Homo sapiens: one gene and its partner. The protein of the gene in region 1 interacts with the protein of each later gene in a biochemical or structural test. Each region holds a gene or a part of one and is shown in the gene's direction. Other genes may lie near its edges.

Region 1 (3,755 bases):
AACTCCTGGGTTTAAGTGATCTGCCCACCTCGGCCTTTCAAAGTGCTGGGATTACAGGCATAAGCTACCGTGCCCAGCACATATAGAACATATTTATGAAAACATTCAGATTAAATGTTTTTCATTTTTATGAAAACATTCAGATTAAACATTTTTATGAAAACATTCAGATTCTTTTGCTATCAACTTTCAGCAAGAGAATGGGTCTGCCTGTTTGTCTCTCCTTTCATACCTGTTTGCCTCTAGGAAGTTACTGGAAAGAAAAATGTTGTTTATGAGACATAATAGCATTAATTTTGGCAGAAATTACAGCTTAGACAGGGCCTCAAAAGCATTTTCCATGTGGCTGTGGACCTCCCAGGAGGCTTGAACCTTACCTGGGAGAGCCCAGCTATCGACAGCACTTGAGGCTGTTGCTGATATCACTTTGCCCTTTGTCTGTCCATTTCTCCTTCTCCCACCTCCTTTTATTGTTTGGGTTTTTTGTTCTTTTCTTTTTCTGCCTAAGTCTTAGCATTTCTATTAATATTTAAAGACTTTTTTTTTTGTTTTTTTTTTTTTTTTGAGACAGAGTCTCGCTCTGTCACCCGTGCTGGAGTGCAGTGGTGTGATCTTGGCTTGCTGCAACCTCCGCCTCCCAGGTTCAAGTGATTTTCCTGCCTCAGCCTCCCAAGTGGCTAGGATTACAAGCATGAGCCACCATGCCTGGCTAATTTTTGTACTTTTAGTAAAGATGGGGTTTTACTATGTTGACCAGGCTGGTCTCGAGCTCCTGACCTAAAGTGATCTGTCTGCCTCGGCCTCCCACAGTGCTGGGATTACAGGCGTGAGCCGCTGCGCCTGGCCTTAAAGACTGTTTTAACCTACTGGTGAAGTTATGATAGTTTTACTGATTTATACCATATACTCAAAACTAATAGACTTCCATCCTCACCTCCCCAAGAAACAAAATGACTACCTTGTTAACAGCAGTGGCTTTACAACAATTTAATAAAATTATTGGTTCACTCTTTCCGAAGAAAATGTCTGAAATAAAGTAAATTTGAAATGTTTCTTTGAATGGTCAATTCACTGTCAGTTTTTGTTTTAATTGTAGGTGAAGTTAAAATGAACTATTTGGGCAAACCATATGTAGCCATGGTTACAACATACCAAATGGCAGTTCTTCTTGCCTTTAACAACAGTGAAACTGTCAGTTATAAAGAGCTTCAGGACAGCACTCAGATGAATGAAAAGGAACTGACAAAAACAATCAAATCATTACTTGATGTGAAAATGATTAACCATGATTCAGAAAAGGTATGTAGTAATATTCCAAAGAATTTAAGCATCATCAGCATTAAAGCTTTTTCATGAGATGTTTGCAGTTTTAAAATAAGGCTGTAATTGTTATTGTGCTCTGGAAAGCACTTGTATTCACTACGTTACTGTACGCTCCATAGAGCTGCGAGCGTTAAGGCATCACAGAGCATGCTGTGTGAGTTGGTGCCATGTGCCGTTTATAGTTTGATTTTATTTGTCCTATACTGTTACAGCTTATTGAATAATTGTAAAAGAATTGCCATCTGGAAGATTTTGATTAATTGAGATTTTGAAACTAGCCTTTAAAGACTTTCCAGGTTTTTGGTTTTATAAATGTGCTTAATTTCATGGTTCTATAACAGGAAATGACAGCCTGTTGATGTCTGTTTGTACACATATTTAATATGTGTAACTCCATTCCAAGTGTTCTTAATGTCAGCACTCAATTAACTGTCATCTGTTTTTAACCACCATATATTTTTAATATCTGTCACAAGAATAACAAGCCATTAGTATATTACTTTTTTTCTCTGTAACTTTTTTTCTAGTTACAAGATTTTGCTGTTTTGTTGTCATAGTATATCCTAGATGTTTAAATAGTTAAAAATGCAACAGAGGTGGGATTATATCTCCTTCAAATTATTGTGCTTATAAGAAAAAATTCCTATAAATAATGTTTTGTTTTTATTTTTGTAAAGTTAATAGCCTACAGTTTATTTCTCTCATTAATTCATTTTGCTGACATCCCTAGGATTATGATGACATTTTATAGTCTATAACTGAACAACTGTAAAAGGCATATTCTGAAATTCAAATCAATGTTTTCATAATTTTGAGAAATGATTTATCTGGCATCAGAATCTTAGCAAAATATGGATTTTTTTTTTTTTTTTTTGAGACGGAGTTCCACTCTTGTTGCCCAGGGTGGAGTGCAATGGCGTGATCTTGGCTCACTGCAACCTCCACCTCCTGGGTTCAAATGATTCTCCTGTCTCAGCCTCCTGAGTAGCTGGGACTACAGGCACGTGCCACCATGCCCAGCTAATTTTGTATTTTTAGTAGAGATAGGGTTTCACAATGTTGGCCAGGCTGGTCAGGCTGGTCTCGAACTCCTGACCTCAGGTGATCCACCTGTCTTTCCCAAAGTTCTGGGATTACAGGCGTGAGCCACTGTGCCTGGCCAAAATAGGGATTTCTTAAGGTTAATTAATTATGGTTTCTAATTTTAGGCTAGTAAATTCTTAAAGGTTTTATATTTTTTTCTAAAACATGCTATTTTTGCTGCCCAGAAATTGACAAAGTAAACATAGATTCCTTGTTTGCACTTTAAATTTTATTTTATGTTTATTTATTTTTGAGATGAGATCTTGCTGTGCCACCCAGGTTGGAGTGCAGTGGTGCCATCTCAGCTCACTGCAATCCCCACCTCCTGGGCTCAAGTGATAATCCTGCCTCAGCCTTCCAAGTAGCTGGGACCACAGGTGTAAGCCACTATGCCAGGCTAATTTTTTAATTTTTAGTAGAGACCGGGTTTTGCTTTGTTGGCCAGGCTGGTCTCAAACTCCTGAGCTCAAGTAATCTGCCCACCTCAGCCTCCCAAAGTGGTGGGATTACAGACGTGAGCCACCATGCCTGGCCTTTAAATTTAATTATGAATCTGTCCATTCCTTAGCAGAATGTCTTAGATTATTATTGAGAATTATTTCATCTTCCAAGTGCCTTTTGATTCTGCTGCCAGAGAAATTCCACTCTATGATATCAGTGGCTTTCTTAAGCCTGATACAGAAGTTGTTATTCTAAAAATTGCCTAAACAGTTTTCCCCTGAGCAAAGGCCACTTGCTTCTTGAAGAGTGAATAAAACATGGATTGAAATAAATGTTTTCACCATCACCCCAGGTCACAGCAAATTGATGCTGTGTGCTACTGGAGGCACAGCTTTCTCTTGTCATCAGGCCATTTACAGTGGGTATTTTGTTACTGCGGCATTTGTAAAAAAAAATGTGGTTGCTTTTTCAAAATGGGGTGATGGAAAAGTTACGCACTTTGGTGTTTCATAAAAATTAAAATGTCAAACTCTAGGCAATGAGCTTGACTCTTATTTTATCAAAAAGTAGTGTATATAGAATAGTAGGACCAGAAAATAGCTTATTCCCAAACATAAACTGCTTAAGATTCTGGCAGATGTAAAAGTAGAAAATAATTGGGTTTTTTCCTGTTTGTTTGAACAAAAGAATTATTTTTCTCTTAAATTTGGTAATCTATAATATAAAAGTTATGAGAGTGGAGGCTTTTTTGCTTGGTCATTAATTTAGCAGAATTGCTTGCAGCAAACTCTTATTTAAAGATTTTGGTTTTTATAAATATAAATGTTTTATTTTTAAATGTAGGAAGATATTGATGCAGAATCTTCGTTTTCATTAAATATGAACTTTAGCAGTAAAAGAACAAAATT
Region 2 (3,755 bases), on another chromosome or scaffold:
CAAGCAGACTTTAACCCCATTCCTCAAGAGCAGTTATTGGCAGCCATAGAGAGTGGGAGGTCAAGCCTTTTTTAGTCATTGGAGTAAACAGGAGACATAGATGTGGAAATTGGGAGGTTCTCTCTATCTGGCTTACGTCAGTTTGAGAAGTTTGACATGAAATGGAACCTTCTGGAATGAGGTTCTTTTTCCTGCTTTTCACCTGGAAAGTTTTCCCATACATGGTCCTCTTGCACCCCTAGTCCTTTTAGGGTACCTATTTCTGTGTGCTAGTTCTTTCATTTCCTTGTCTGTAACATGAGGATAATAATAGTCCTTATCTAATAGCATTATTTTGAGGATGAAATGAAATACAGGCAGTAAATATTAGTTACTCTTTGCTATCTGGAAAAACATCAATTGAACCTCATAGGATGGACTTGTGTTCAATAAGTGTTATATATAGTAGAGTCAAATGGAAAAATTGAACCACTCAGATACATTTTTTTCATTGATACATAATAGATGTATTTATTTGGGGGGTACATGTGATAATATGATATATTCATATAATTAAAATTCATTGATACATGATGTATTTATTTGGGGGTACATGTGATAGTATGATATATTCATATAATTAAAATTCATTGATACATAATGTATTTATTTGGGGGGTACATGTGATAGTATGATATATTCATATAATTAAATGAAGATAATTGGGATATCCATCACCTTAAATATTTATGTTTTCTTTACACTAGGAACATTCGAATTCTCTTTAGCTATTTTGAAATGTACAATAGTTTAGTGTTAATAGATCAGTCATCCTACTGATATATCGAACACCAGGTCTTATTTCTTCTGTCTACATAGACATATTTAGAAATGCAAATCTCTTAGGAAATTAATCTGTAATGTCAATGATGCACACTGATTTGTATTACTTGCTTTCTTTGTAGGCAGTATAGTGAAATGGTTCATTAAATGGATGCTAAATATGACTAAATGATCAATTTACAGTGTAGTTGGCACCAAGTAATAAATGCTCAGTAACATAGCTACTATGGCTGTCTTTAAAAGTGGATTGGTTTGACTTCATAGGAAGGACTCTATTTTTAAAAAAGAGAAATATTAAAAAATAAAAAGCCAAAATTCTATGATGTCTTATTACATTGAGTCTCTTAAATCAGTTTTTTTTTAATTAAGTAGCAGGACCCTATTGCAAAATAAGTTTTACCTAGAAGCACAGTATTTAAAACAGAAAGCTAAAATACTCTGGTTAAGTGGGAAGCTCCCTGTCTTCCTCGCTGCTAGTATTATTTCTGAAAAACCTCAAAGGAACTCCTTGCTCTCTGAATAGCAGGTTTTAAAAACCACTACTTGCACATTTGCACCTTGACATCAAACATGTGAACAAAGTAATAGAGTGAGAAAACTGAATTTCTATTTAGGAATTTCTATTTTATTCTCTCTATAAAAAGCCAAGAAGTGGTTGGTGTTTGGAATAACATGAAAAATATTCCAAGTATCTTTGGAAATACTTACACTAGAACTATAAGGTTTATGATAATTCTATCTTAGATTCATTATCTAGAGCTGGTCTAAAAAAGGATGATATGTAAGAACTACCAAGAGAGACTTGGAGTAGATACAAGAATGAAGGAATGAATCAATATCCAATAAATATCCATAGGCCCAGGCTTTGCTATGCCCTCTTATTACACAGGATAAAACAGTGTAGTTGTTAGTTTCTACCTTTGAAGATTATGATCCTTAAAAAGGAAACAGCTCTGTGAACAGAGACCATGTTATTCATAGGTGTTCCTCACTTGTTTCCACCACATAATAGGTATTTAATGAATGAAAAAATTCACGTCTCTCTTTGATCCTAGACTGCAAGTTACTTAAAAGAAATGGACCGTATTTTACTTATCTCTCATGGCCTGCAAATTGAGTTTGCTTACTGAATTAATGAATGAATGACCAATTGTACACATATGTCTGTAAAACGTTTACATATCCACATTCCCATTAGACTGAGATTCTTGAGGGCAGAAACCATGTCTTCAGCTCTCAGCATGGTGCCTGACTCATGGTAGGTTGTCAAAAGCATTTGCAGAACTGAATAAAACTTACGTTTAAGTAGTACTGGAGCAGTCTCACATAACCGGGCACAGTGTCTTCTAAATAGACACTAAAATTATTTCATAATTAAAGACAGATCTCACTAAGCATTTTCTGAGTTAGTGCCAGTTGAATAATATGACAATAAGCTATAGGAGTTCAGAGGAGAGTGAGTTCTGTGGACTGAAATAGTCAAAGTGGATTTTCAGAGCAGATGAGACGCGATGAAGGCTGGGGCTACTTTGGTGTTTTAAGAACATTAATTAGGCAGCAGGAAAATCTGAGGACAGGGAGACTAGTAAGGAAGGCTGGAAAGAGCCCTGGGTTTGGAGTTCAGAGATCTGTGTTCAGAGTCCTTTGCTTCTTAGTGACTATGTGACCTTGAGAAGATAACTTGAGCTCCCTTTTTCCTCTTCTGTGAGGTAGAGGTAAGATTGATGTGCATATTGATATTGTACTTAAAAGTGTTTGTAAAATGCTAAGTAAAACCTAATGCTATGCTTTGAATGTAGTGGGTTCCAAATATTTGTTTAATGACAAAGAATAAATGATATTGACTAATGAAAATAATGGAGCCACTGGAATGTCACCTCCTGCATCTGCCAGTAAACCTGTTAACACAGGGGTGGCGGGGGGGGGGGGGAAGTAAATATGTGAAGCCACCAAATCTCATGATCAGGAGAAAAACTTTGGAACTCCCATGAGACTCCAAAGTTATGTCACAGGTGAATAAGTCATGAACTTTTCATGCTGATATCATTTCTAAGGTTGCTGCCTTGTCAGAAGAAGCAAACCACAAGATAAACCATGCAGAAAATCTTTTTTTAAAAAAGTTTCCTGAAGGATGGATGGTTCATTTGTTCTGCTTGTCACTTTACTTACTAATGAGTCATTTTTTTCCTTAACCAGTAATTTGTTTTAAATTTGGTCATAAGATGGTATGTTGACTAGTCCAATGTTACAAAATAATTGGAAAAAAGATGACAGACCACCAACTGAATAAGGGAAATCTGGTTCTTGAACTTCCAATGTATGAATTGGTGATGGTAAGCTTAGTCTTTATGATGTAAGATTGGATTTATTGGAACTTCTTTATGTCCAGAAGTTGCAGCACCTTTCTTTGTCTCTGGAATGCCCAAGATCTCTACTGCATCCTGTAGACATGGAGGGTTTCCCCCCTTATTCTGGGTCTGATTATTTTTAAAGAAACACCCTTTCCTTACCCATCATGGAGACACTACTAACCTTGTATATACTTTTATTAGAGTGCTGATAACACCATATTACAGTAGCATACTTACATATCTGTTTTCTTAACTGTGAGCTCCTTGAGAGCAGGGACTGTGTGTTTTTGCTTTTATTTCACCAGTACTCAGAACTATCCACAGTATAGAAAAGCACTCAATAAATGGAATAAATGAAAATGAATAGATAAATAAATGATTTCACTTGTATAAGATGTCCAGTAATCTTTTGTGTATTTTTCTAATTCACTGTATGGCACACATTCTAGTACAACCCTGTTTATAATGTTGACCTACTATTAAAGGAATTAAACAAATGTAAGCCAAGACAAGAAATGCATATTAAAACAACTATGGTATTTTTGCCTTCCAAATTGGCACAGATTTTAAAAATTGATAATG

What was found. Proteins that work in one complex are often made in the same cells at the same time.
Region 2: of the proteins of CUL2 (region 1) and DCUN1D5, one has a biochemical effect on the other in vitro, tested with the Homo sapiens proteins (2 studies listed by BioGRID, with this or other methods).

What each region holds. Positions count from the first base shown.
Region 1 is NC_000010.11:35,013,736-35,017,490, reverse strand, and holds part of CUL2 (cullin-2), read left to right. Parts: intron 1-1,096; coding exon 1,097-1,299; intron 1,300-3,690; coding exon 3,691-3,755.
Region 2 is NC_000011.10:103,050,499-103,054,253, reverse strand, and holds the end of DCUN1D5 (DCN1-like protein 5), read left to right. Parts: 3' UTR 1-3,568; downstream 3,569-3,755. UniProt on the Homo sapiens protein: Contributes to the neddylation of all cullins by transferring NEDD8 from N-terminally acetylated NEDD8-conjugating E2s enzyme to different cullin C-terminal domain-RBX complexes which is necessary for the activation of cullin-RING E3 ubiquitin ligases (CRLs).